Linked DNA regions of Homo sapiens. The protein of the gene in region 3 purifies or fractionates together with the protein of the main gene of each other region. This does not show direct contact. Each region holds a gene or a part of one and is shown on either strand. Other genes may lie near its edges. The genes, in order: PARVB, CMAS, LIMS1 and RABGAP1.

Region 1 (7,022 bases), on a different chromosome or scaffold from region 3:
GGAGGATCGCTAGAGCCTGGGAGGTCAAGACTGCACTGAGCTGGGATCGCACCACTGTACTCCAGCCTGGGCAACAGAGCAAGACCCTGTCTCAAATAAATAAATAAACAAACAAACACACACACAAGGTTGCAGGTTACTCATGTTTCCAGGAGTAAACACAATGTACTTGCAGGACTTGTGGAACTAAAGGATCCTGGAGAACCACGAGGCCAGGCCCTGATCTCAGGCAGGCGGCAGCGGAAGCAATGGGGGAGACGGGAGTGGTGAGCAGCTTCTCCTCAAAGATTCCCAGTGAGTGAGTGCACAGATCCTTTCCATGCACTGCCTTCCTGAGAGGCAAGGAAGTCTTTACTTTGTCCCCAAATCCCTCTAGGCTCAAGTCCTTTGGCTCCATCTTATTTAACAAGCACTTACTTGAGTACCTACTATGTGCAGGCTGTGCAGATACAGAAATTAACATCCCCTGGAGATAAACACTATGTGGCCCTGCCCTCAGGATGCCTGGGAGTGACAGACCTCATAAGCCAATATTTCAATGTTGGCCACATGTGTCCAGAGGCTAAGGGAACTAACAGGAAGCCAAGCACTCCTGCTTGGCAGACAGGAGGGCTTCCTGGAAGGGGTGACCTCATAGCCACCTCTTGAAAGAGAAAGGGGAACACTGAGACTGGATAGGAGGTGGCAATGCTGCCTTAGGAAACTGAATGTGGATCTTTGGGCCGCTGGTTTTCAGCAGACATCCAATGATTCAAATGTTCCGTCAGAGCCTCCGCAGCCACGGGGAGGGGAAGGAACAGGAGACAAGGATGGGATGACCAGCCCTGAGGAGAACCTACCTGGGGCATCATCCTGGAGAGGTGACCCAGCCTCTCCTTTACCCTGACCCTGGCTGGCAGAGGGACACTGACTCAGGCTAGAAAATCCCAACTCCCTTCCTCACTGCTCAGGGCCATCTGATATCTGATTGAGGTGGCTTTCACTGAAATCTCCCCTTCCCTGACTTTGGGGTGCTCCCCTCCTCCTGGAAATTCCCTTAGGGCCCCGAGGCACTTCCCACAAGCCCCTGTGTTAGACTGTACATGTCTGTGGATGCATCCTTTCTCATCAGCAGGATGGGTCGCCCTGGAGGAAAAGAACTGCACTCAGCCCACCTCTCAGTGTCTCTGTTGATCCAGCAAGGAGGCTGGCATGCAGCAGGTCCTTGGGGCCACTTACTGCTGATGAATAGCTGAGACAATTCTCCCACCCACTTGCTCATTCTCTGTCTCTGGACCATTCTAGTTTTATGGCAGGGGGCCCAGCTCCTCCTTGCTGTCCTCATATGGGACCCCCTCACCTAGAGGGGAACTCCTATCACAGCATGCCCACCACCCAACAATGTGCACAGGCCATTCCTGCACAAGGAGGCAGAGTCTGTTTCCTGCACCTTGATCCAGGATGACCTGTGACTCACTTTGACTCACAGAATTGAGGACATAGGTATGGATGTCCAAGACAAGGCCTCAAGGGGACTGCAGCTGCATTCTCACTCTCTCAGGACCCTGAGAGCACCCTGGGAAGATGCCCAGCACTGTGAGGAGGAAAGAGACCCAGGGGAGGCCAACACCAACCACCAGAGGTAGGGGGAGCCCATCTCAGCCTCCCCAGCCTCCATCCAGCCTTCAGATGTCTGCATCATATGAGCAACCCCAGGCGAGACTGGCTGAACAACCGCCCAGCTGAGCCCAGCCTAAATTGCTGACCCACAGAATTGTGAGCAGCAAATGAAACAGATGTTGTTTTAAGCCACTTGACTTTGGGGGTGATTTGTTACACAACAATAAACAACTAAGACACCAGCCCAATCCCAGTTCCCCACGAGCAGCCCTTCTCCTACTGCTGAATAGGCAGAGCTGCTGCCAAAGGCCCACTGTGCTGGGCAAAGAACCACATTCTCATCCTCCCCTTTTCCAGCTCTCCCTGTTCCCTTCGTGGGCCTGGGGCAGACTGGGAGGCCTCTTCATGGGCCTCTGCACATGCATCAGCCTGCACTCCACTGTCCCATCATCTTCCCTGAGAGCTTGCAAGCCACGAGTGGTTTCCTGTGTCAGCTCCAATTTTTGAAATACCATCCATGAATTCACAACACAGTAATTAATCACTCTGTGAACTTAGCTGATGGATTAGCTGAGACAATCAATTTTTAAATGTTCTGTTTCATCTGAAACAGGTTTAGTCAAGAGGCACAAATGCAGTGAATTCTAAAGATTCTTAGCAGGTTATCACAAGGAGTCCTTAAAACCACATACCACAGATACTGTTTGATTTGCTATTTTCAATAGATTTGAAGCCTTTTAGACTTCTGAACACCTGCCCTCTGGCTTTCTCTAGGAGATAACAGATGGCTTAGTAGTGTCTGTCAAAGGAAAGTTCTGGTTTAAAGATGTAGCTCCCACCTCTGATGGGGCTAATGTAGATGGATAAATGAACTGAGACAATGGTTCTCTCTAACCATCCTGAACTCTCTCTGCCTGCCCCACTTTGCAATGTTCTTACAGCTCACCTTTTAAGATAGGAATGAAAAAATTCAAAGTCTGTGGAAGGTAACTCAGTTCTAATGTTAAAAACTCTGAAGAAAGTGTGCAGAGGGAGGAGAGCTGGGGTGGGAACCAGCATGAGAATCACATGCTACAGAGAAGGGGTGTGGAGCGGGAGCAGCCCCATGGGCGCTGGTGTCCCTGGCTGAAGTGGCAGCCTGGGGTCCCACTCACTCGGGGCAGCAGGGCCTGGAAGGGCAAGACAGGGGTCCACTTACTCTGTAGTTGTGGTCAGCTCCTCCGAGATGTGGCTGGAATGCAGCAGGCCTTCCCGTTTCTGAAAACCCCAAAATAAACATACAAAATCAGGCAGTGGAGAGTTGAGGAAAGATGCACTGACAGGGCAGACGAAGCTGCGGGGCCGGAGATCATCTTAGAAAAGAGCAACAGGAGAAGGAGGGGTGGTGTTGAACACGCATGCCAGGCCTGGGTGAGTACACAGCAGGGGACCCTGGGCAGGGTGCCTTTCAGCGACCACAACCTGTCCCTATCCTCCTCCCCACCCTCTGGTCTCCACGTGGCCTTGAGAGTTGGCATTTGTGTGGGTCTCAGGAGAAACACCCCAGGTCAGGATTCCCCAAAGGGATCCTCTATGCTTTGCAGCCAGGAGAGGTGAGGCATGCAATTGGAAGGAACATAAATAACAGGGAACATCCCCTGCAATCATGTGTGTGCACGGGACTGAAGAGGGTCCCCCAAAGTTCATATCTACCACAAACTTCAGAACATGATCTCATTTGGAAATAAGGGTCTTTGCAGATACTAGCTCAGATGAGGTCATCATGGATTATGGTGAGCCCCTCCTTAATCCAATATGGCTCACCTCCTTATTAGAAGAGGAAACAGACACAGAAACAGACAGAGGGAGGAGGCCATGTGATGACAGAGGCAGAGACTGGAGAGATGTGGCCACAAGCCAAGAACACCAAGGACTGACAGCCACCACCAGAAGCTGGAGGAGGCAGGAAGACCCCTCCCCTAGAGGAGGAGACATGAGGGAGGACATCCTACCCTGACAACATCTTGATTTCAGACTTCTGGCCTCCATAATTGCGAGAGAATAAATGTCTGCTGTTTTAAGCCACCTGGTTTGTGGTACTTTGTTATGGCTGCCCTAGGAAACTGACACAGTATATGTCACACTTCTCCCAGAGCGTGGCAGGTATAGAAAAGCAATGATGGCCGGGCACAGTGGCTCACAGCTGTAATCCCAGCACTTTGGGAGGCCAAGGCAGGCAGATCATGAGATCAAGAGATTGAGACCATTCTGGCCAACATGGTGAAACCCGGTCTCTGCTAAAAATACAAAAATTAGCTGGGCGTGGTGGCATGTGCCTGTAATCTCAGCTACTTGGGAGGCTGAGGCAGGAGAATCAGTTGAACCCAGGAGGCAGAGGTTGCAGTGAGCTGAGATTGTGCCACTGCACTCCAGCCTGGGTGACACAGTGAGACTCCATCTCAAAAAAAAAAAAGTAATGATGGTAGTGAGGGGGGCATGGCAGTGGTGATGGTAGGGGTGGCAGCCCGCCTGTCACAGGAGCTCCAGATGGAGCCTGGGTGGCTAATCCAACCACCACTGAACCCCTCAAGGGACTGGGAACTCATTTCCCGCTGGGCCAGCCCACAGTGGACACCACCAAGATCTGGGCTTCCATCCCTTTCCTGAGTTTGACCTCCATGGAATACTCAGGGTTGGTGCTTGTTATTGAACAACAGTGTGGGTGACATTTATCCTGATTCTCAGGAGTGCCTGCCAAGGAAGGTCCAGACATTGTGTTCACCTAGTCAAGGATCAAACATGCCTGAGGCACCCACCAGGTGCTGGGCCCAGGTCTAGGATTGTAGACATGAAGCTGGATGTTTTACAGGTTTGTAGTAAAATCTTGGTTTTATGGGGAAAAGCATTGCAGCTCAGCAAAAGCAAGTGATCAGCCCAAAGCCACGTGGCCAGGCAGTAAATAAGGCCCTTTCCTTCCTTCCTTCCACCCTGGAAATGCCACATCCCTTACACCAACCATTCCATCTGGGGTTAGATAAGGGGTCCCCTGAGCAAGCTCAGAGGCCAGGGGGCTGCAGAGAAGACAGAAGGCGGCTCTAAGGTCTGGGGAGTAACTGCGCCCGGTTCACAGGACCCCCTGCTCCCGTTTCATTCTGCTTTGGTCGTGGCCAAACAACACTCCTCTAACCCGTTATGGCAGGAAGCACCAGCAAGTGCTTGCCTGGTTCAAACTTTCTGCAAACCGCAAAGATTATCTTGGACCCAAGTGCAAGCCTGAAAGGAAATACTCCAGTTTCTGAGCCTGCACAGGGCTCCTGGGGCCCCGAGCTGACGTAGGTAGGCTTGGGAACCACATCCCAATGTGTCCTAGGGAAGCCTTTTCAGGCCGGCTGCCTGTGAACCAGTGGCCAAGACACGGGGCCATAGGAATGGCCCCCCAGGTCCCGAGTCACCACCACCAGCCACAAACATCCTCCTTAGGAAGGAAACATGGACACATGGCAGGTGGCCCTTGCCGGATGCCAGAGAGGAGCATTCCCGTCCGGTCAAGACTGAGCTCCCAGGGTAACAGAGGGGCCAGAATGGGTTCGGAAAACACAGTGACAGCCAGGTCCTCCCCGACCACAGAGACCACGGGACTGAGAAGTTTAAAAACCAGAGGAAAGTGGAGCCGGATGTCTCGAGTAAAATAAACACAGAGGCATCCAAGGTTCCGAGCGTGACCTCAACTCTGGCCGCAGTGGTCACCCCCACAGACGCCAGGCATGTGTTCCTCCTTTAGTGGCTCGGCAGCCTATGCTGAGTGCTTAGAGAATAGTAGGCGCTCATTGCACATTTACTGAGGGAAACTGCACACACGAACCCTAGGCAGCGACTGTCCACTTAAATGTAAGGGAAATAAGGCCAGGCATGGCAGCTCCCACCTATAATCACAGCATTTTGGGAGGCTGAGATGGGAGGATCGCTTGAGCCCAGGACTTCGAGACCAGCTTGGGCAACATAGCGAGACCTTGTCTCTACAAAAATTTGAAATTAGCCAGGCACGGTGGCATGTGCCTGTAGTCCTAGCTACCTGGGAGGCTGAGGCGGGAGGACCGCTTGAGCCCAAGAGGTTGAGGCTGCAGTGAGCCATGACTGCACCATGGTACTCCAGCCTGGGCAACAGAGTGAAACCCTTTCACAAAACATAAAATAAAATAAAAAATAAATGTAAGGGAAATAGCAAGAGAAAGGTAACTCTACTTCACCCTCTGTTAGAAGGACCTGGGTTCTGGTTCCATTTCTCCAAGTGAATCAAGAGAAATGAACCCAAAAAAAGAGATGATGGGGCATGATGAATAATCCCCAACGAATGCAAAGCGGCTTTAATTTGGGTGTCTGTTTCATCCCGCGGGGCCAACCTCCTCCAATGAGTAATAAGCACATTCAAGGGGATTGAATTCCAACCAGTTGGCTTTGGAGAGAAATGAATGTTCTTTTCAAAAATGTGGAAAATTAAACCTCAACACCCTCATGCCTCTGCTTCTGCCTCTCATCAAATCAATGCCATTGTTCCCGTTCCAATCATTTATCTCGGAGCCAGGGTGAGACACACATTTTGTCAAAAGGGAAAAATAGAAGGTAGCCTCCTGGGGGGAAAAAAGGAGGGGGAGGGCAGGAAAACTGCAGGAGGAAGATGTTGCCTCTCTGGCGGAGTTACAGGCAGGCCGACCACTCGGTTATACTCACCCGCACGACCACCACCTGCACCGTTACATGCTCAGGAAGGCGGATGGGGGCCCTGAAGTGCATGGCCAGAGAGACCAGCAGGTGGAGGATGGCCACCAGGTTCTTCCCGTGAATTGCTGCAGGAGGAAGGAGGAAGGGAGACGCTTTAGATCAGGTTACACAGGAACCTGAGCCCACGTGCAGAAGGCAACAGAGACACAGCATCTAAATGAGACCCCAGCGAGACAAGGATGGAGCGAAGTGTGGACAAATCAAGAGAGCTGATGAGCAACCTGGTGAATTTACTTCTAGCTTCACTGTCTCCTTTCCTGTTGGCCTAAGGTGACTTGTGCAACCACTTTTAGAAGCACAATGTTTTTAAAAGCAATAAATTGGGCAGTGATGAGGGAAAGGAACAGGATAGTAAAATTAGCACAGAAGGGAAAAGAGCATGGAAAGCAGGTCACGGCCACTTACCCATCACAAGGATGTGCGTTATTATCTCTGGCACTAAAAAAGGGCTCCCTCTCCGCAATGAACCATCCCAACAAGGGTAGGCTGCCAAGAGCAGAGGCCACTCTGGGGACATTAGACATTAGCCCCTGCCTTGCCTGAGTCTGTCCTCTCTCTTCCTCAGCATGCGGACTCAGGTTTGGTCAACATCACCACTTCTCCTGCAGGGTTTTACAGTTTACAAGGCACCCGATTCCCCACCCACGGACCCAGCCACCCACGAG
Region 2 (7,263 bases), on a different chromosome or scaffold from region 3:
ATACTGTAGCAATACAAGCACTATGTTCCTCTTGCCATAGTGACTGGTTGAAGAATGAGCAGGGTACCCAATGAGGCACAATGAAACTTCGAGCTTCGAGGAGAGCACTCCTTCTGACTTACATTTAAACCTGTAAGAATATGAGGACTGCTATCAAAGACACACAAAATCGGTGACTAAAGTGTTAAGGACAGATTGTATTCTGTTACTACTGCAACAGGGAAAAGAGTCCAATGTGAATTGCATTCACAGCCCCAGAAAACGAAAGGCTGGAGACTTTAAAGGCTGAGTTGTGCTAAGGGAAAGGCACTGAGGGGTGCTAACAGGGCTTAGTCCGTGTGACTAGGCCATATGGATTTGTTAACTAGCGCTTATCTGGAAGAGAAACAATCTTCTATCCTTATGAGACAAGGCAACTGAGCAAGTTGAAGCAAGGTGTCCACTGAACTTTGCCCTTTATCTTCCCAGAGGGACTAGGAAGGAGAGTAAGAGTTATTTCCTAGAATGTTCGCATTTCACTGAGACAGGGTTCTGGGGCTCCCAGGTCCTTGAGGAAACAGTTTTGTGTGGTAGATTTACATCTCAAAAGGCAGGGAAAGTTTTTATAATTGCAAGCTTTCTAAACTAATTGCTCTAAAAGAGGGTTCAGGGGCCTCTCACCAGGTTTTTCCTGGAACAATCAGGAAATTCTGGCAGCTTTGAGCCTCTTCAGGAAGCCATTTTAAGGGAACCTGAGATCATCCTAGGGACATGGCCTTAAGCTGCTAGAAGCCATGCTAGGGCTTGGTCAAGTCTCTTGGAGCAGAGGTTTGGAGCAAGTCATTAGGTACCCTGAGAGTTCTGCAGTTCTCAGTACAACCACCTTGAAACCATAAAGGGTCTATCCAGAGCTAAGAAATTGAGGATTCTGGCAACAAAGTGCACCATCCTCTTATCCTGCTTTACTTTTTCTTAAAAATATTTATCATAACGTGATACAACACACATTAATGTTCTTGTATACTGCATGTCTTTCCTTATTATAACGTAAGCTCTATGAGACTAAGGGCTGTCTCTACTGCTACTACACGTGGTTCGGTACATACAACAGTGCCTGTTACATAGTAGGTAGGCAGTAAGTATGCTGAATGAATGAATCATTTTTTTGTCCTTGAATCTGACTGTACCTTAATAAGCCTTTCCCTCTTTTGTTATGCCAGTTTGAACAGGGTTTCCTGATATATACAACCTAAGAGTTGTAAATGGTATTAACAGTTTTGTTCTCCATTTACTGTGAATATGATTTTGATCTCTAGTTCATTTCACAAAAATGATATTTCACTATATTACTGCAGTCTGGATGCACCTACTTCTCTCAGTCCTTTTTAGTTTGTACCCTTTCTAAGAATGTAAAAATATCCCAAAGTTTGTGAGCTTCACAAGGACAAAAACTGTGTCCCAATCATCTTGGTATTCCCTTGGACATGTATAGCAGAAATTAGGGCTCAGTAAATAGCTACTGAATTGAACAAAATCCCCAGGTCCTTCCCTATCTCTCCTTCGCACACTTCCTATTGCACTAGTGTTATCTTCTGAGTGGTGGCTCCTATTTGCCTTGGTCCATCCAGGACTTCTTTTGGGTTGAAACATTAAGAAAATTAGTATATTTATACTTTTTTGGCATCTCCCGTTTTTGAACAAGACTGGTTAAATGAAAATCATTTACCCATATATTAATATGGGTAAGCAAATATAGGTTCAAAAAGAAAAAGAGATGACTTCAAAAACAGTCATCTCTTTAAAAATCGAAACATCAAAAGGTTAACATAAATTAATTTCCACAATAACAACACATTCAAATGTAGTTAGGTTGAAGCTATATGTGTAAATTCATTCTTGGCACAGAATTCGATCTCCCTTCTTTTATGAATAACATCAGCTTGTAACTCCTGACCAATTTGGCAATGTATCTAAATTACGCATAATTAAAACTGTCCATAGGGCAGGCGAGGTTCCAAAGGTATGATTAAATGATTTGTAAGTATTAATATATCATAAAACAGTCAGTTGTACACCTTCCCACTGAGTCTCACGTATTTATAAATGTAGGGAGTTTTCTAGATTGTGCTGACTCACAGGAAGATAGCTGGAGTATTTTTCAAAGGTTAGGAAAAGATCTCCAAGCTGAGCTTGAAATTCAGCTCTGACACCCCGACACTCAACTCCATTCATGAACCTGATGCCTCCCTAATCGAGCAGCACCAAGCAGTTATCAGAGGCTGAGCAACAGGGGAGCTTCGATGGCCCCCATCCAAAGAAGTTCACATATTATCACAGATGTTGCACCGGGGTGGCCTCCTTTACTTTTCCCCGTAAGGTCAACCCGGGAGGAGGGGACGGTTGGGGAGGTGTAATCTCCCCTTTTACGGATGATTCTCAAGGGCGGAGACAGGAACTGTCCCAGGTTATGACCATTGGCAGCTACGGAACAAGGAAGGAGCTGGAGCCCTTCCTCCTGGGCTCTCAGCCCGGCCCCAGGCACCCCGGATCTTGCACATCCCTGGCATGAGAGATGGCCCCCTTCCAAGAGCGGTGGCCCCGGAGGCCCCAGCCCCTCCAGCAGCCCGACTCCCTCTCCCGACCCCCGCCCAGGCCGCGCCGCCCACTCTCGCACATGCGCACCTCTGGAAGGCCCCTGAATCCAGGGCCGCACGCAGGACCCAGCCAATGAGCGGGACCCCCGCCAGGTGCTTAATGTTCTTCAGGGGGATGCCTTTGCTGCCTCCCCGGGCCAGAATTAGGGCTGCCAGGTGCGGGGGCTTCTCCACACCTCGGCCCTGGCCGCCGCGAGAGTTGCGCTGCAGCTTCGGCGGCCGGCCCCGGGACGGTCGCCCCCGCGGGTTGGAGACGGAGGTGGCGGCCCCCTTCTCCACCGAGTCCATCTTCCTCCCACGCCTTCTCCCCAGCTTCTCCACATCCGGGAGCTAGTCCCTCACCACCTCAGCTCGGCGCCGCCCGATCCCCGCCTGGCAGCTGGCGCGCGCGGCCGTCCCTCGCCCCGCCCCCTCCCCCGCCCCTCGCGGTGCTCGCTGGGAATTGTAGTCCGCGGCCGCCTCGTCTGGGGCCAGTAGGCCAAGTAGGCTCTGATGAGGTGACCCCAAAACTAAGTCAAGCAGTGGGAGTCCAGAGATATTTGGAGGAAGTGCGGCTTTTGGGGTGCTTGCAAGTGTCTGTAAATTTCTAAAATTAAAAAAGAAAAAAAGTATTTATAATTGCTGAAGAACTTCCCCACTTTAGAATTGTGGTGGGTTTCCCGTTGCATACCTTGATGCACCCTGACACGAATCCATTTTATATTTTAAAATGTACATTTTAAACATACACCTTTTTTTAATGCCCCTGGGTCATTTTTTCCAAGAAATTACTGACCAGCTCATTCAAATATCCTACAGGCGCCTTAAACTCAACGTTTTAAAAACTCCATTTTTCATATGCTCTCCGCACTTTGATCGACATCAGCATTCCCTAGCAGCAGAAATTTGGAAGTCAGCTTTACTGGTCACCTCTAGTGTGGCCGACACTTGGTTTTTTGGTTTTGTTTTGTTGTCTGCTAAAAATCTTTTCCTTTTAGGAATTGATCCCTCTCTCATCCGGTGAGGGTTTCCCTCACATTCTCTGCACTGTGTGTGACCCAAGCTGGTCCATCTACGCACCCCATTTTCCTTAACACACCTGTGGTCTAGGGACAGGCATATGACCAAGCAGAGCCCACTGGAGTCCTTTCCAGAGAGTCTTGGAAAGAAAGGATCTTTCTCGTGCTGACTGGGTGCTAAGGACCTTGTTAACCTGAAGCCTCAGGGCAAGGGTAGGGTAGGGCGGCAGGGGGGCTTTGCTGTTCTGAAATGGGCTGGAAGACTGATGTTCTCCCTGAGGAAGCAGAACAATGACATGTAGGGATTAAAGAGAAAGAATTCTGGAGGCATCATTTAAACTCTTTTTTTTTTTTGAGACAGATTCTCACTGTGTCCCCCAGAAGGCTGGAGTGCAGTGGCACAATCTCGGCTCGCTGCAACCCTCTGCCACCCATTCTCAAGCGTCCTGAGTAGCTGGGATTACAGAGGGGCACCACCACACCCAGATAATTTTTGTATTTTTAGTTGAGTTGGGGGTTTCACCAGGTTGGCCAGGCTGGTCTTGAACTCCTGACCTCAAGTGATCTGCCCGCCTCAGCCTCTCAAAGTGCTGGGATTATAGGCATGAGCCGCCACGCCTGAGCATTTAAACCCTGATCCAGCCAAGAGGCTCAAAGACATACACCCACACACACCTCTCTTAGGAAAAAAAAAAAAAGAGACTTTAAAGCAGGCATCTCTGACCTAGCATGCATTTTGTCTTTCAGCATGTTTGCAAGCCTATATTTGGAAGTAGAGTCTTTTACATTTCTGAGATGGAGGCTGATACAAACAGAAAGAATGGATTGTAGTGTGTCGGCTTGCCTTCTCCCAGAGGGCAAAAGGATTTTGTACTTCTCAGGTCTTGGCCATTTTTGAGGGGAGAGAAGAAGTCTTTGATGTTTTGGGTCCTATGAGAGGTACTGGATACTTTACATCTCTTAGTCTGTGAATTAACTGAGGGCCCAGCCCTTCCTGGGACTGGTGCTGGAAGAAGGTGCTTCGTGCAGACACAGATAAGGGAGGCTGTGAGCAGACATCAATGCCATGCTTGGGAAAGGGGCAGGCTCTATGAGCCATTCCAGCACTGAAGGGCAAGGGGACAACTTGCCCCCATACACTGGCTCTTTGAGTAGGGCCTTTGCAGTTGCTGTGCCTCAGAGACACCAGCACTGAGCTTTTGGTAGTCATGTGAGGACCCCTACTACACCCCAATAACAATCTTGATTCCTATTAATGATTTAGTTGCCCTTCTCCACAGTAATTCCCTACAGGCCCATAAATCCTAGTGGACCACAGACACCTGAGTAGTTTTGACTCCTGGGGCATATTGGTGTCCTCTAAGCTGGGAACAGAGCAAGTGGCACCACTGTTACTTATCAAATGAGATTATAGCGATTTACATAAATACCAAGAGACTTTGAACTCTTCCAGGAGAGGGACTGTTCCTTCTTTGTAATCTTCTCATCCAGAACAATGCATGGGTCACAGTACTGCTCAGTAAACATTGGTGAACTGCCTCTCATATTACTTTTTCAGTCTCTGCCCACGCATGCTTTTTAAAATATAGTTGCAAACTTATGATAATAAAGCATTTTATATCCTTTGTATGGTTACAGCACAATTTTGATTAGACCTGACACTTAGCTACTCCCAATCTTGAGAGACGGAGACAAAGGAAGAGAGAGAGGTGGTGGTAGTAGAAGGGGAAGGTGATGCATCTAGTTCAGCATATGGCACACAGAAATTTGATGAATTTTAAAAAATGAAATTAGAGTTTACTCTTTTACAATATTTTTACTTAGTCCAAAGAGAGAATGATTGTTCCAGGAAGAGGAAGAGGATGGGTTATCCTGTCTTTTTCTTTGGATTAGTTTTGAGGAACAAAATAAACTACTCTCAAAGCAAATATTCGGTCATCTTTCCTTTAAAGATCAGTATGAAGTGTTGCTGCTGAAGAATAATTCATTCGTATTTATTGTGAAAGAATATATCCTTATATTATCTCTTGTTTTATGATTTTGTATGTAAACAAACTTTGTATACAGAGGAGTCCTTTGACTCACTCATTTGTTCACATTCACTGCATTCCAAAAGCCAGGCTCTGTGCTACACGTTAAAAATACCAAACCAAGAGGTGAAAGGCAGCGAACTTAGCATTATGACAGGGAGACAGGCACACCCCAGTAGAGTGTGATTTGTGCTGTGAAAAAGTGTACATGAGGTAGGCAAGCACAGAGGGAGGTATTTAGGCTAGAGTAAAACTTTTCTTTGCTGAGATGACTCTTGAAAGATTGTTAAAGTACAAAAAAGACCTCAGCTGAGGGAATGGCATTGTGCAAGGTGCAGAGGAATGAGACTACATGATGATTTAGGAAACTTGAAGTGAGTCACTATGACTGAAGCAGAATATACTGGTTGGTTAGTGGCGAAAGATGAAAATAGAGAGGAACGCGTGGGCCAGATTACAGCACATAAAGACCTTATGTGTTCAGCTTTGTTAAGGAAGTTACAGATAGAAGGGATATAACTTGATTCACGCCATTCTTTCAACAAATCGTTATTGCATGACAACTGTGTCAGGCACTTTTCTGGGCACTGAAAATACACTGAGGTGATGAAAAGTGCTCAAATTTTCCGGATATATCTTAAAAGTATAGCTAATAGGATTTTCTGACAGACTAGGTGAAATGCATGAGAGAAACAGGAAAATTGGTGTGATTCCAGGATCTTTGGCCTGACCATTAGTAGGAGGGAGTTGCTATTAACCGAGATGGAAAGGATAAGAAGGACTAAGGTTTGGAGACAAAATTATGAATTCTGTTTTATAAATGCCATGTGTGAAATATCTATTAGCTATCCAAAGGGAAATAAACAGTGGGCTATTGAATATGTTACCCTAGAGTTTATAGGAGGGGTCTAGGATATGAATATAGCTTGGGAGTCATCAGCATTTGGGTACTATTCTCAGCCATAGGACTAGATGAGAAAGAGAGGTGATGGCAGACAGAAAAGAGAAGAAACTAGATGAGATCAGCTAAGATTGAAAAGTTAACAGAAGAGAAAACAAGTCCGAAGACTGCGCCCTGGGGGTCTCCAACACTTAGAGGTTAACGAAATGAGAAGACATGGCAAAAGAGACTGAGACAGAATGCAAAACAGAAGCCAATAGGGTACCCTGAAATCTATGCGAATAAAAGTAATGGAAGGAGGGAAAAGTGATCAATTATATCAAATGCTGTGATTGTCACTGTGAAAGTTATCAATACCAAAATGAAGTTGCTTATGTCTAACCCTAAGATAATAGAGCCAGAAGGCCATGAGGGAGGGGCACTCATGCACTATGCTTCCACCAAAAAAATACCACAGGAAATTTTTTCAAAGTGCAGCTTGCTACATGAGTCATACAATGAGAGCTAGCAGCCACACAAGGACACAAAGCTAGCCACACAAGGACAGCTAGCTGCTTGCATAAGAACACTTGCCTGTCTCCACTAATAAACAGATGTCAATTTCTGCCATAAGACTCTGTAACCAATGTTTTCTGTTTCGAAACAACTTGTATGTACTTCTTTCTCTCTCTCTCTCTCTCTTTTTTTTTTTTTTTTTTTTT
Region 3 (7,881 bases):
CCTGAAAGGCAGAAAGTTGCTTCTTCCATGGTGGTCCAAGTCTTAGTTATTACATCCTACTAAAACTAGCCAAAACTACAAGGCACACACTACCACAAGCATTCAAGAGCAATTTTAAGAGAAACCTTGTATTTGTTCCTTTTTAAATATCCCCAATACCTGCATATCCTTCATCATTTAGGATTATGTCTTTAACAGTGGTTCTTAAAGTATGGCCTTGAACTCCTGAGGGTCTCCAAGACCTTTCTAAGGGATCCGAGAGATCAAAACTATTTTCATCATACTAAGATATTCCTAAGAAGTCACTGTAGCATTGTGGACTGTGTTGACACACAGATAGTGCAAAAACAACAGTCGGTACAACTGCTGGCCGCTTAGCACTAAAGAGGGCCGTGGTACTGTCCCTGAATTCTTTACCTTTATGTACTCACAGGAAAATAATGTCAATTTCACTTTTTAAGTGAAATGGTACAGTCATGCTGGAAAAAAACTGTCAGTTTCTCAAAAAACTAAACATACGATTTCTGTACAACCTGCCAATTGCACACTCTTGGACATTTATCCCAGAAAAGGAAAAGTTACATTCACATAAAACTTAGACAGGCTGAGCACAGTGGCTCTAAAATTCCAGCACTTTGGGAGGCTGAGGTGGGTGGACTGCTGGAACCCAGGAGTTTGGGACCCCCAGACTAGCCTGGACAACATGGCGAAACCCTGTTTCTACCAAAAAAATACAAAAATTATCCAGGCATGGTGGCGTGTGTCTGTAGTCCCAGCTACTTGGGGGACTGAGGTGGAAGGATTGCTTCAGCCTGGGAGGTCTAGGGTGCAGTAAGTCATGATCATGCTACTGCATTCCACTCCAGTCTGGGTGACTAAGCAAGACACTGTCTCAAAAACAACAACAAACACCTGTCTATTTGTTCGTAGTAGCTTTCTTAATAGCCCAAAACTAACAGCCTGAATGTCCTTCAAACATGTGAACAGTTAAACTGCTGTACATCCATACCATGGAGCACTACTGAGCAACAAAAAGGAACAAACTATGACATGCACAACAAATAGCGTATGATTCCACTTACATGAGATATGAGGTACCAGCAGTAGTCAAAGTCATAGACAGAAATTAAAATGATGGCTGCCAGGGACTGGCGGGAGGAGGGGAATGGAGAATTATTGTTTAATAGGTACAGAGTTTCAGTTTTGTAAGATAAAGATTTCTGGACATGTATGATGGTTACGGATGCACAATAATTTGAATGAACTTATTACTCTCCCTCCAAAAAGTAAATTACTAATGGTAAATTCAGGATGGGAAGGGGATAGGATGCGGAGAGACACTGGACCAGAGAGGTTTGAAGGTCTTAAAAGGAAACTATTATCTCCTTTATTACACTACATATCCGTTATTCTTAATATCTCACAAATACTTTAAATTTTATATCAACTTACTAGTCAATACTTTTTTTTAAGGAAAAAAGTCCATGATGAAGGAGTACAAATTATTGTTATCAAATCTTGAGCTTTGACTCTTTTTTGTTACTTGTGACCAAATGGCAGGCGTGCACTTCTGTAATAGAGCGATGAGCTGAATTAACTTGCTTGTGTCATGAAATACCATTTTTACGGGAAAGAACAACTGACAAACTAGGGTTATTTAAACCTGTATTGCCGGACACTTCCTTGAAACTGAACAAAGTGAGTCTGTCACTTTGAGGAAAACAATTGACAATATTTTGCTCCCAATGATAAAAAGCAAGCTTTCAACCGAAAATGAGAATTTTGGAAAACTTGTAAACACCACCTTGTATCTGACGGCTTTTAACATAAAGACTTTCCTAATGAAATCAATAGCGATGGTAACGAATGTTATTCGGCGCTATTAATGAAATGCGTCAGCTTGAGATCTGCCAAACTCAGTGAGCCAATATCTTCCAAACGACAAATATATGGTGTTACAATGGGTAACAGCTGCATTCAAACTGCAAGACAGACCAAGGAATTTTAACGTAACTGTGTGCAAAGGCCACTGACAGGAGCTTTAGCTGCATTCAAACTGCAAGACAGACCAAGGAATTTTAACGAAACTGTGTGAAAAGTCCGCTGACAGTAGCTTCAGATTCCACGTCCAAACCAGCCTTTGAGAAACTTCCACTTACGTAGTTTTGGTGTAGTAATAAAGAATACCCATAATTATCTGAAACAGCTATTAAGACAGTACTCACTTTTCCAACTACACATCTGTGTAAGATCAGATTTTCTTCATATAAAAACATACCGCAACAGACTGAACTGCAAAGGAGATGGGAGAACGTAGTTGTCTCTACTAAGTCAGACAACTCAAGAGATTCGCAAACTGTAAAGGACGCCAGTCGTCCCACGAACTCTTTTGTTTTAGCAAAACCCTATGTTGCATAAAAATGTGGTATGTACGTTAACATACCACGGATTTATTCAATGAGTTAATAGTAACTTCAGTGTCTCGGTTTTCCTTTCTAGTACAGTCTATGGAGATAGCCACCATTCCAGGTCCTCTAGTCCCAAGAGGGGTCCTGAGACCAAGACGTCTGCGACCCGCTGATCCCTACTGCTAGAAGATAAATGATTAGCTCGGCAAATACTGATTTGTCTTATGGAACTCTCGGAGCAGCGGGGCGGCGTCAGCGCCTGTGCCACCGCGGACACCCGGGAGTGAACAGCAGCCGTCTCCTCCGCGGGCCCGGACGCAGCCACGCCGCCACCCGAGCGCTGGGGGTCGGGGCTCCGGCCGACCGGGGGAGGCCGCGGGGAAAGCCCGGCCGCCCGCCCGCGCCAGGCCCGGCCCGGCCCGGCCCGAAGGCCCGCCGGGAGCTGCGGGGCGGACGTGGCGGGGGCCGCGCGGTGCGGCCCGTACCTGTGGGTCATCCCGGCCGCCACGCCCAGCATCTCTCCGCTTTCGGCCGCCGCCGTCTCTCAGCCCCTCGTCTCCCGGCGCCGCTCCAGCCGCGTCCTAGTCCCTCGCCGCCGCGGCCGGCTACTGGCGGGCCCGGAGCAGGAAGGGGAGGAAGGCCAGGGGCCGGCCGCGCGGGGGCGCGGGAGGGGGGGGAAGGCGAGGCGGGCCGCGCGGGAAGGCGGGGGAGGGGCGGGAGCGGCTGGGCAAGGAGGGGCGGGGACTGGCGGGGCGGGCGCCGAAGGGCGCGGACTGGAGAGGTAGGCGCGGGGGGGCGGGGCGTTGCGGGGCGGGGCGCGCATCAGACCCCGCCCCAACCCGTGGCTCGGGCCCGCCCCCATTTCAGCACCCCAGGCTAGTCTGGGAGGCTGGCGCAAACGCAGCGGGTGGCTGGGGTAGGGGCTCATTGGGAGCCCACGGAGCGCGGCGGCGGCTCGGGGGCCGAGTTCCCTACAACAAGGATGGCGGTGACGGGCGCAGGGAGCGGGGCCCGGCTCTCCTTGCCTCGAGGCTCCTCTGATTCCACTCGCGTGGCTGCGCGGCCCTGGCAGCGGCCTTCGTCCCGGGGGTGGGAGCTACACAGGGTTCCGCCCCGTCCTGGCGAGGACGCCTGAGGGGGCTCTGTGGTAAGGCTCTGTCGGGCAGGCCGGGCTTCCGGGAGGACCTGGTCTGGATCGGTCACCGCTGGGTGCCTGAGCTCCGCATGGAGCCTGCAGCCTTTGTTTAACTTGTGAGTTAAGAAAAGTTAACCTTTCTTGGAGAGTTTCCAGTCTTGCCTCTGCATCCTGTTCTTCCTTGCTAGCTCTCATTTTCTTCACCCATTCCGTCTATCAAAACCTGAAATTTTGGGGCCGGCGCAGTGGCTCACGCCTGTAATCCCAGCACTTTGGGAGGCTGAGGCAGGCGGATCACCTGAGGTCAGGAGTTCGAGACCAGCCTGACCAACATGGAGAAACCCCGTCTCTACTAAAAATACAAAATTAGCCGGGCGTGGTGGTGGCACATGCCTGTAATCCCAGCTACTCGAGAGGCTGAGGCAGGAGAATCGCTTGAACTTGGGAGGCGGAGCTTGTGGTGAGCTGGGAGATCGCGCCACTGCACTCCAGCCTAGGTAACAGGCTCCGTCCCAAAAAAAAAAAAAAAAAAAAGTGAAATCTCCAAAGGATTTAATAGATTTAATAGATAAGACAAGTTATTCATCCTGGGCATAAATGATCTCTCTCAGGATACCTGATTCTGTAACTATAGCTACTCTCTAGTAATAGAATGAAAACTTTGGTCTCCTGCCAGTCGAGGCATGTCGGAGGAAAACACTGGATCTATTTGATGTCCTCACATGAAAGTAAATTCCAAACAAAGCAAATAGTTAAATGTTCAAAAAACAAAAAAAAAAAAAAAAAAAAAGAGAGAGGTTATGAAAATACCAGAAGAAAACAAGGGAAAAAAACAAAAGTAAGGTTGGAGTGGTGAGAGACTTTTCAAAGAGCATATAAACCATAAAATTAAAAATTGATAAATGTAGGCCGGGCACGGTGACTCACGCGTGTAATCCCAGCACTTGGAGAGGCTGAGGTGAGTGGATCACCTGAGGTCAGGAGTTTGAGACCAGCCTGACCAACATGGTGAAACCCCGTCTCTAATAAAAATACAAAAATTTCACCGGTTGTGGTGGCGGGGTTCCTGTAATCCCAGCTACTTGGGAGGCTGAGGCAGGAGAATTACTTGAACCTGGGAGACAGAGGTTGCAGTGAGCCGAGATCGCGCCATTGCAGTCCAGCCTGGGCGACAGAGCAAGACTCTGTCTCTAAATAAATAAATAAAAATTGATAAATGTAACTACATAGAAATCTAAATTTTCTGCATAGCAAATAAATATAACAAACCCCAACCAAGAAAAATATTTGTAAAATGTATGACAAAAAGTTCTAAATTATTAAAAAAGTTCTAATTATTAAAAAAATCAGTACAAAAATGTTCAACTCAGAGAAAAACAGGTTTCTACAGAAAAATACAAATGATTTCTTAAAGTATCATAAAACAAAAATAAAATACAATTTTTCACAAATGCAAAGATGAAAAGTTTGACTATATATTGTTTTGATGAGGATATAGGGAAACCCTTTTTTCCTCCCCTAGAGGAGGCCTCTCTATGTTACCCACACTGGTCTTGAACTCTTGGACTTCAACTATCCTTTTGAATAGCAGGGTTTACGAGTGCACGTCAGCATGCCTGGCTAATTTATTGTTGATAGGAGTATAAATCCATACACGCTTTGTAAAGAACAAGTGGGCAATAGCTATCAATGTAAAATTCAGCTCTTCTTTGACCCAAGATATTCATATTTTGGAATTTATCTTACAAATGTATTCTTATATGTACACCAAAAGAATGTACAAATTTGGGCATGGTGGCTCACACCTGTAATCCCAGCACTTTTGGAGGTCGAAGCAGGAGGATCCCTTGAGGTTAGGAGTCCAAGACCAGCCTGGGAAGAAAAGGGAGACCCCCCTGCCTTGTCTCTACAAAAAAAAAAAATTAAAAATTAGCTGGGCATGGTGGCGTGCACCTGTAGTTCCAGCCAGCTATAATTGCACCACTGCACTGCAGCCTGGGTGACAGAGTGAGACCCCGATTCAAAAAAAAAAAAAAAAGAAAAAAGAAAGAACAAATTTTAAAGGTCCCTAGGCAACTATCTGTACACTAAATGACATCACTGAAATTTACTTTAAAATGTAGGGGTGGGGAATGTGGGTTGATAACTTGAAACTACCTCATAAATACATTACATTCTTTATATTAGCTTGTCTACTTTAGTGTATATGTGAACATTTCTGTAATAAAAAAGTTTTTTAAAATTGAAAATGGCCGCGCGGTGGCTCAGGCCTGTAATTCCAGCACTCTGGGAGGCCAAGGCAGACAGATCATGAGGTCAGGAGATTGAGACCGTCCTGGCTAACACGGTGAAACCCCGTCTCTACTAAAAAAAAAAAAAAAAAAATGCTGGGCATGATGGTGTGCGCCTGTAGTCCCAGCTACTTGGGAGGCTGAGGCAGGAGAATGGCGTGAATCCAGGAGGCGGAACTTGCAATGAGCCTGTAGCAGGATGAGCCGCAGACAAAACTCCTCAGACTCCGAGTTGAAGGAAGGGGTTTATCTGGCCGGGGGCATCAGCAAGTCTCCTGTCTCAAGGGCCAAGCACCCCGAGTGAGCAATTCCTGTCCTTTTTAAGGGCTCACAACTCTAAGGGGGTGTACGTGAGAGGGTCGTGATCGATTGAGCAAGCAGGGGGTACGTGAGTGGAGGCTGCATGCACCAGTAATTAGACCGGAACAAAACAGGATAGGGATTTTCACAGTGCTTTTCTATACAGTGTCTGTAATCTATAGATAACATAACTGATTAGGTCAGAGGTCGATCTTTAACTACCAGGCCTAGGGTGTGGGGCCGGGCTGTCTGCTTGTGGATTTCATTTCTGCCTTTTAGTTTTTACTTTTTCTTTCTTTAGAGGCAGAAATTGGGCATAAGACAATATGAGGGGTGGTCTCCTGCCTTATTCCTCCCCTTTGAGACTCTCACTCAATAGTAGGAGTTTTCACTTTCATTTTCTTATCTATGTCTTCCTGCAAGACAGATCGATAGTGATTCATTCATATAGTACACTTCTGCTGAAGCATTTTGGTGAACTAAGGTAGCGATGAAACTTTTTATCATTTGAAGAAGTACAGGTAGCAAACAAGGGAGCAGTAAGCAGGTTCCTATTACTATTATAACTTTTATTATAAGAGTTTTAAATCTTCGTAGTGCTGGGAACCATTTTCTAAACATGGCCTCAGGATCAAATCCATGCCACACTTGTACGGGCACATGTGTCAATTTTGTTATATCTGTAACTATGTCTTCAACTACTTGCCCTTGATTATCTATGTATAGGCAGTAATTAGTATGGTTAAATTTCCTACAGACCTCACCTTCAGCTGCTAGCAAGTAGTCGAGAGCTAATCTATTTCGATAGATAGCATTTCTCATCTGAGTTTATTGCCGGGCCAGAAGAGTCAAGGCTCTGCCAGTTTTATTAGTGGTTATTTTTAAGACAGCTTGTAACCGTATGATTCAGTTGATCATGCAAATGGGGGTCTGGTATCCTCACGAGCCGTCTTGTGCCTAAGTAGCAGGCCTATAATATTGCATGATTCTCTTAGGGGGCCATTTATCATGTTTTCAATTTCTTATAGCTATGCTTCTCTTTTCGTGGGAAGCATAGACAGGGAAGCCTAGGATTTCGCCTGTTTTTATGGGCAGTAGGAAGAAAGATGGTTTAATAGTGCCAGTAACACAACTACCTGCCTGCTGGTCGGGTAATTTGGCATAAGCTCTATGCCTACATATCCAGTACAATCTAGTGGGGGCTGTCCAGTCCCGGTGGGACTCCGGGTGGGTCCACACAGTTTGCAACTTTGGGAATTTACTAAATGGATTTCTCTCTGTGTGACTTGAACTCCACCAAGTGACTGTTTTTGTGGTGCCATTATACACTTTCTGTCTCAGACAACTAAGTCATCCTACGGGGTGAGTGAATTCTCTTCCTTCTCTAGCTATGCAATATTGTCCAATAATTGAGGCTTTTAGGACCTAGAAATTATCAGGGTGATTCTTTTGAGCTGGGAATTCATCAGGAACTTGGTCTGTAGGTACTAATTCTTGGGCTTCCTGTGGCCATTGATCTCCTATTACAGTTTCTCCACGTACATAACGTGAAGTGACATTGAGAGACTGGGTTACATGCTCGGCTAATTGCAAAAACAAATTTCTTGTTTTTCCTGGAATTTCTGGTACTGGCACATTTAGTTCATCATAGAAAGTTTAAAACACTGGCTTAGGAGAGCATTTATAAACTTCTCCTCGAACTAAGATGTTTACTTGAGGATCCAGTCCGGCCCCGTCGATTCTTAAG
Region 4 (7,022 bases), on a different chromosome or scaffold from region 3:
CCTGAAGGAAGAGTGCATGTTTGAGGCAGAGAGGGAAAGGACATCCCAAGGAGAGGGAACATCATGAACAACAACAAGGAAATACGAAGTTTTTTTTAGCGCAGAAGTGGTTTTTCCTTAATCTTCCCTACTCCTTCGCCACAGGAAATGCAGTGGTGATAGCTGTATTCATTGTAAAGAAAAAGTTAAGATTGGAGAGAAGTATTGGCACCACTTACTGTCTGTCAAAATGCTGTCCCAGTGTGGGTAGCATCCTCCAGGGTTCTGTATTCAAGGTCCTATAGTGCCACCATGGCCCACAAGTGGCTACATTCATTTACATTTCCTCTGTGTGTTTTATTTTCCAGGCTTATTCTGTGTATGATGAAGAGATTGGTTATTGCCAGGGCCAGTCATTTCTTGCTGCTGTGCTCCTTCTCCATGTGAGTAATTAGGTCTCTGTTATGACTTAACACATGGCCTCCCTCAGCTTATACTAACCTTAGGCTTGAGCATGGTTTTATATTGGGTTTGGACAGACTCTTAAGGCATGAATTTTAACACCTATAGCTGGAAACTTTTTCCTTAAATTAACTTAATGTCATTGTGGAGGAGATATATGATGAGAATAAACGGCAATGTTGAAAACTGGTACAGGGGTAGACTTCCTTTTTATTAATAGGATGATTGGAGAGACTTTAATGTTGGTTGAACTCTTGGGGACGTTTTATCTTCTCTAAAGTAGCCGCTGTCATTAATACTTGTTTTGAGATTTAGGTATTGGGGTAGGAGGAAGGCGGAAAAGTTGGTTTTCTTTTAGTACCATTTTATTCATTCATTGGCTTAGCAAACACCTTTGCCCTCCACCTTTTTTATTTTCTTTCAAATCCACAGAAAACTCTAAACAGTGTTAAGGTGAACAGTCTTTATCTAGTTTACCAATTAATATTTTCCACACTGCTTTTTCTGTTTGTCTCCCTCTGCATCTCTTTTTTTCTCTTTTCTGCATAAACACACATTTTCTTTTTTACTTAAATTGTTTTTTGAAATTATTCTTGAAAGTAAATAACAAACATCAAGACTTCTAAATACTTGATCATATATATGCCTTCTGGGAGCACAGAATTCTGTATCATAATCATAATACCATGATCACATCCAAGAAATTCCACATTGATTCAGTAATGTCTGATACACAATACACATTCAATTTTCTCCCAATTGTCTACTCCATAGAATCTAGCTTTTTTTCTAATCAAGATCTAATGAAGATTCAAATATTGAATTGTCATTTCTCTTTATTCTTTTAATCTAAATTACTCCTTTGCCTTTTTTTGTGTTTCATGCCATTGATAGTTTTGAAAAATTCAGACAAATTGTCATATAAAATGTCCCACAGTCTTGATTTGTCTCATTTTCTCATGATTCAGTTTAAAATGCTTGGCAAGAATACCACACAGGTGATGTCAGCAAAGAGTTTTGAGTACCTGTTATGATCTGTACTGTGCTGAAGATCAGAGGTAAATAAGAGACATGGTCTCAATCCTCCTGGATACAGAGCTTGTGAATCCAACTAGCTTTAAGCACATAATCACACAAGTATATCATTTATTACTTTCAGTGGTGCTATTAAGGTATAATAAAAAGTTTGGTGTAAGATTGTAACAAGGGAGTCTTACTTAGATTAAAGGCTTCTCAGGGGAAGTGACCTGTAAGGAGCAGCCTGGAAAATGATAAGGGATATCATTTTCTTTTGCTCTTTTCTGTGTTAACTTTTCAAAATGTTGTTATGAAAATAATAGATCTATTTGAAAAGGGAGTAGAGAATAGAGTGTTAATGGGAAAGTGAATGGTACAGTATACAGAAGTCCTAAACTGGGGAAACACTTGGTGTATGGGAGGAACTGAAAGGAGGACAGTGTGACTGGAGTATCCTGAGTGACTGGGAGTTGAGGAGAGAGCTAGGGAGAGCTTTGAAGCCCAGATAAGGAGTCTGAATCTTGCTTTTCTAAGCAACAGGTATTCAAGGGTATTAAGCCATTTTGTGTAGATTGCAATACAAGTTTGAGTATCCCTTATTTGAAATGCTTGGGACCGGAAGTGTTGTGGATTTTGGATTTTGGATTTTGGAATATTTGCATTATACCGGTTGAGCATCCCAAATCCAAAAATCCAAAGTGTTCCAATGAGCATTTCCTTTTAGCATCATGTCAGTGTTTAAAAAGTTTCAGATTTTGGAGCATTTTGTATTTTCAGATATGGGTTGCTCAACCTGTACAAGTAAAACAAAAACCACTTTGGTTTTTCTTAACTGAACCCAGCTTGTTGCTATTGGTAGTCATGTAAAAATATGATAAAGCTATGACATGAATAAAGAGGTTGACTTTTTATTTTGTTTTGTTGTTTTAATGAGACTTTATATCTCAAAGTCCCACAAGCCTGGGTGATTTATCTTCGTTCTCACCTTCAGTTCAAGGACATTTATCCCCTTGAAAATGGGTTTTCCAATCAGACCCTCCATGTCTTGTTTTGAACTCTTGCTGCTTGCCAGAGTGTTATAAGTGCTTGTTTAGAGTGAGGGGAGATGGGCTACTTAGCATCAGAATCACCACTGTGGGTTAGGCCACATCTCCTTGCATGTGGCAAAGTGAAGTTGCCTTCCATGACAAAGACTTCAAAGATCTGGGCTTTTGCCCCAGATACTCTTAACTTACCAGTAATGATCTGCTATGCTTTTCTCACTTATTACTTAATCTGATTTGCTCTTTAGTTCTGCTTTCTTCTCAGTGATTTCTGTGCTCAGCCCGCCTCCATCATCTTGTTCCATAGAAGCCTGCCCACCTTCTTGACTTTTTTGAAGGCTTGCTACATTCACACCAATCCTTAAATAACATTTCCAGTGCTTCTTTTTTCTCTTTTGAAAATATCTTGCCAAGTTCTCAGGGAAATAATTATCCATAAAACTATGGAAAATGTAGGTATTATTATAAATGTAAATAGAAGTGAAGGAGGCTTTTGTAGTACTTCAAGCATTACTGCAAGCCTTAGAATATGTAAGGTTCTTCTAAAACAAGCTATATTTTTAACAGTGAGGAAGAAAAACAATTTTGCTAGAATGAAATAGCAGCTAAGGGAGGAAAAATGGTTAAACAGAGGTCCCAGGATTTGGGAAAGATGACACCTACACTGTATATCAGCCTATTTCTGCTCAGCTCAAATTCTGTCCTTTCTACAAAGTCTGTTTCTGACTGCCTTAGGCAGATACAGGCCTTCCTGTTCTTGTATTATCACTGATGTCTAATTCCTATTACAGTTATTTTAATACTGGCTGTGTGAGAGACTCCTTGAGGACAGGAACCATACTGACAAAGAGTAGTCATTGTTAACTATTCCTTGTTTGAGTGAATAAATGTTTTAAACACAACCTTAGGCCTGAGTTTCTGCATAGCACTAAATTTTCTGGTAAGGCAATAATATAAAGCTGGATTTAATATCCTGAGAAAACTTCTGTATGTTTTGTGATTCCCCACCGCCATCCTCCCTACCCAACAACTTGCCTATCTGTTACAGATGCCTGAAGAACAGGCATTCAGTGTTCTGGTCAAGATCATGTTTGACTATGGGCTCAGGGAACTTTTCAAGCAAAACTTCGAAGATTTGCATTGCAAATTTTACCAGTTGGAGCGCCTCATGCAGGTAAAAAGAGAAACCAGCTTGTGTTTGACAAAAAGAGTACAGGACTAAGGAGCACCAAATTGAGGAAATGGTGCCAGGGAGCATTGGTAATTGCCTTAGCGATCCGTGGCTAAGGATGGGTTTCATTTTTATCCTTTATCACTATGTGATTATGATGCAAAGATTAACAAAGTGTTAAACTTTCACACCTCATGGATGTGAGCTGATAAACTCCCAAAAGATCAGATGACTTTGTTAGGGGTCTTTTCCACAGCTAACTCAGTCAAGAAGTACTCCCCAAGGCTCTGAAGCTGACTGGTTAGGAATCTCATAACAAAAGTGAAACAAACTTTCCCAAATGTTTTTTACTTTGGAGAGAAAAACAGGCTTTCCAAATACTTGTCACCATTTTGGGGATTCCTCTTTCTTTAGAACAAGTTTGTGGTCTGGAAAAAAGAGTTGAGTGCCAGCTTAATACCAGATGATAAGTGTTCTAAGCACTTTGGAGATTTTTAGAAAAACACAAGTATTTTACTTTTTTGGCCTATTCCTGGTAGATTTATGAGCCTCCTTAGTGGGAATTGGACAGATGCATATGTGCCCAGAACTAATTGGTTTGCTATTTCAGGAATACATTCCTGACCTGTACAACCACTTCCTGGATATAAGCCTTGAAGCACACATGTATGCCTCCCAGTGGTTTCTTACTCTTTTCACTGCAAAATTCCCTCTCTACATGGTCTTCCATATCATCGACCTGCTTTTATGTGAGGTATGTATCAGAGGCCACAGCACTTTGGCTTTTGTTTGCAGTGTACTTGAGGAGAACAGATTCTGTTTTGAGTGTCAGCTCTGTCAAAACAGAATTGGTCTCTTTAATTATTTTATTTTATTGCTAGGAAATCTAGGTTTAAGTGACTTCCTTGGACTAAAGCTAATGATCGTATTTGTTAAAGGTGTACTCTGAAAAGACGTACTGAATTAGACATTTGTATTAGTTCATATTAGTTTTGGCTGTATTGAATGAAGAAACCCAAAGTAACAGTGATTTTAAAAAATAGCTTTTTGCTCTCTTGTGAAAAAAAGTCAATGTTGGCAGTAGCGTGCCTTCCCCTCACTCTGGCTGTTAGCCGTATGGAGGAGTAGCACACCAGCCATTATATCATATTCAAGCCAGGAGGATTAGAGGATGGGAGAGGGTGCCTCCTCTGTTTTCAAAAGAGACTTCCTGGAAGTTCCATCCAGTATTTCCACTTTATGGTCAGAACTTAGTTACATGACCACACCTAGCTGCAAGGGAGACTTTTTAAAAAATAAGCTGAGCAGGAATTTGCTAAAAATTAGAGATTTATTACTAAAGAGAAAATAAGATATTAGAGTAAATAACAGTCTTTGCCATGACGTAATTTTGGATTTTGTGTGGTGTGTTTAAGAAAAACATAATTATAAAAATAATATATGTTTATAGAAAATATAAGTAAAAATAATTTAAAATACTACAAATCCCACTGTCTATAGGTTACCTCCTTTAACAGTTTGGTTAAAAGCAGTATCCTTTCAGCCTTTTTTATGTGTTCATATATGTGTATGTATAATTACTATACAGAATAGTATGGTTTCCATATGGATGGAACACTATATATATTATGGTTCTCCTATGTGTATATTTAAAAATATGATTGTTATTTATACTCTTTGGTATCCTCTTTTTAAATTTCATATACTTGAACATACACATCTGTACTATCCTTTTTAATTATGCTATATTCAAAACATACAAAAATTCATAAAGAATTTGTATCTACCACTCAGCTTGAAATATTCTAAGAAACAGAAGAAATAAATATTACCAAATATGCCGTTTTTCTTAGTTGCTGCCAAGTATCCCATTATTTGGATGTGCTATACTTTATGTAACCAATTTCTAATCACAAACCTTTAAATTGTTTCTAGCTTTTTAGTAGTATAAACAACCATCTGTTAAGTAGCTACTAAAGGCCAGGTGGCATGCTAAGTAATTTACATAAACTTTTCAGCTAATTATCTCAGAAAACCCATAGGAGAGTATTAGTTATGGAAACTGAGGCCCAGCAGCTTAAGCAGTTTAACTTGATCAACAGATGTTAGTGCTTCCTCTCCTTTGTTCTTAGCCCCAGGATTTGCAGAATGGAGGGAGCCTTGAGCAGATTCAGTTCTGGAATATAGGGCTTATCGACAGAGTGGTTGCTGTGCATGGATTGGGACAGCACAAGATAAAGGAAAAGTTCCCCAGGAGTTATTTCCTGAGAGATCACAACTTTATGACTGATCTTTTGGTTTGGAAGCATGGAATGCTTTGGAAAAGCATTTCTTATTATTGAATATGAGAACAGGGCAAGAAAAGCTCTTCTCTCAGAAAAAGGGGAAGCTAGGTCTTTAAGCAGCTTTTCAATGGCCCTTTAGTTTTTATTTTTCAAGGTAGTTCTGAGATAATGCATTTCCTTCCTTAAGTTTTCACAATTTCTTTAAAAATGTGGGGTATAAGGACAAATAGCATAATAGTCGAGATATAAAAACTGACAGTGTTCTTTTTGTCTGTTCTCTTTCAGGGAATAAGTGTTATTTTTAATGTCGCCCTTGGATTATTAAAGGTACTCATTTATTTATTAGCTGAGTTATCTGTCATTCCCTGCTCTGCACTTGCAATACATTGGTTGTAGTCTCATTCTGAGCAGTCACTGTGCACTAGCATTACCCATGACAGTGGATGTATGCAGGTGGCTCTGACAAAAGCGAAGAAATATCTTCTGGGGATTATAAAAGTGCTGGAAATCTAGCATTACCCCTAACAGTGGATGTATGCAGGTGGCTCTGACAAAAGCTAAGAAGTATCTTCTGGGGATTGTAAAAGTGCTGAAAAGTGCTGAGAATATAAAAAACTTCTTGTGCATCCTTATAGCAACACATTTTTTCTATATGTGTTTGTATTTTCTTCAAGACTTCGAAAGATGACCTGCTGTTGACAGACTTTGAAGGTGCCTTGAAGTTCTTTAGGGTTCAGCTTCCTAAGAGATACCGCTCAGAAGAAAATGCAAAAAAACTAATGGAATTAGCCTGCAACATGAAGGTAAAATAATTTTGCATTAGTTAAGATTCTGTTTTTCACTTAGTGTCTCACTATTCCTGATCATTTATAATACATAATTATTTATGTATTATATTTATAACATTTATAATACATATTAGTGTTAACATTTATAATATATAAATAATATTAATGATGTTTTCTTCTGTATTATATAACTCTTAACCTTTTTTTCCCCAAAATACTTTCCTATATATTATAATCCTACGAATGAAATCTCGTTGTCCCCCCAACCGCCAAACTA

What was found.
Region 1: the proteins of LIMS1 (region 3) and PARVB purify together in Homo sapiens (affinity purification with mass spectrometry; 3 studies listed by BioGRID and IntAct, with this or other methods). This does not show direct contact.
Region 2: the proteins of LIMS1 (region 3) and CMAS purify together in Homo sapiens (affinity purification with mass spectrometry; 3 studies listed by BioGRID and IntAct, with this or other methods). This does not show direct contact.
Region 4: the proteins of LIMS1 (region 3) and RABGAP1 purify together in Homo sapiens (affinity purification with mass spectrometry; 3 studies listed by BioGRID and IntAct, with this or other methods). This does not show direct contact.

Annotation. Positions count from the first base shown.
Region 1 is NC_000022.11:44,132,294-44,139,315, reverse strand, and holds part of PARVB (beta-parvin), read right to left. Parts: intron 6,423-7,022; coding exon 6,307-6,422; intron 2,857-6,306; coding exon 2,798-2,856; intron 1-2,797. UniProt on the Homo sapiens protein: Adapter protein that plays a role in integrin signaling via ILK and in activation of the GTPases CDC42 and RAC1 by guanine exchange factors, such as ARHGEF6. Is involved in the reorganization of the actin cytoskeleton and formation of lamellipodia.
Region 2 is NC_000012.12:22,041,962-22,049,224, reverse strand, and holds the start of CMAS (N-acylneuraminate cytidylyltransferase), read right to left. Parts: upstream 3,008-7,263; 5' UTR 2,922-3,007; coding exon 2,662-2,921; intron 1-2,661. UniProt on the Homo sapiens protein: Catalyzes the activation of N-acetylneuraminic acid (NeuNAc) to cytidine 5'-monophosphate N-acetylneuraminic acid (CMP-NeuNAc), a substrate required for the addition of sialic acid.
Region 3 is NC_000002.12:108,529,607-108,537,487, reverse strand, and holds the start of LIMS1 (LIM and senescent cell antigen-like-containing domain protein 1), read right to left. Parts: upstream 3,019-7,881; 5' UTR 2,926-3,018; coding exon 2,894-2,925; intron 1-2,893. UniProt on the Homo sapiens protein: Within the IPP (ILK-PINCH-PARVIN) complex, binds to F-actin, promoting F-actin bundling, a process required to generate force for actin cytoskeleton reorganization and subsequent dynamic cell adhesion events such as cell spreading and migration.
Region 4 is NC_000009.12:123,070,003-123,077,024, forward strand, and holds part of RABGAP1 (rab GTPase-activating protein 1), read left to right. Parts: intron 1-347; coding exon 348-422; intron 423-1,409; coding exon of another isoform or gene 1,410-1,475; exon of another isoform or gene 1,476-1,499; intron 1,500-3,549; coding exon 3,550-3,675; intron 3,676-4,282; coding exon 4,283-4,426; intron 4,427-6,242; coding exon 6,243-6,284; intron 6,285-6,631; coding exon 6,632-6,760; coding exon of another isoform or gene 6,761-6,769; intron 6,770-7,022. UniProt on the Homo sapiens protein: May act as a GTPase-activating protein of RAB6A. May play a role in microtubule nucleation by centrosome. May participate in a RAB6A-mediated pathway involved in the metaphase-anaphase transition.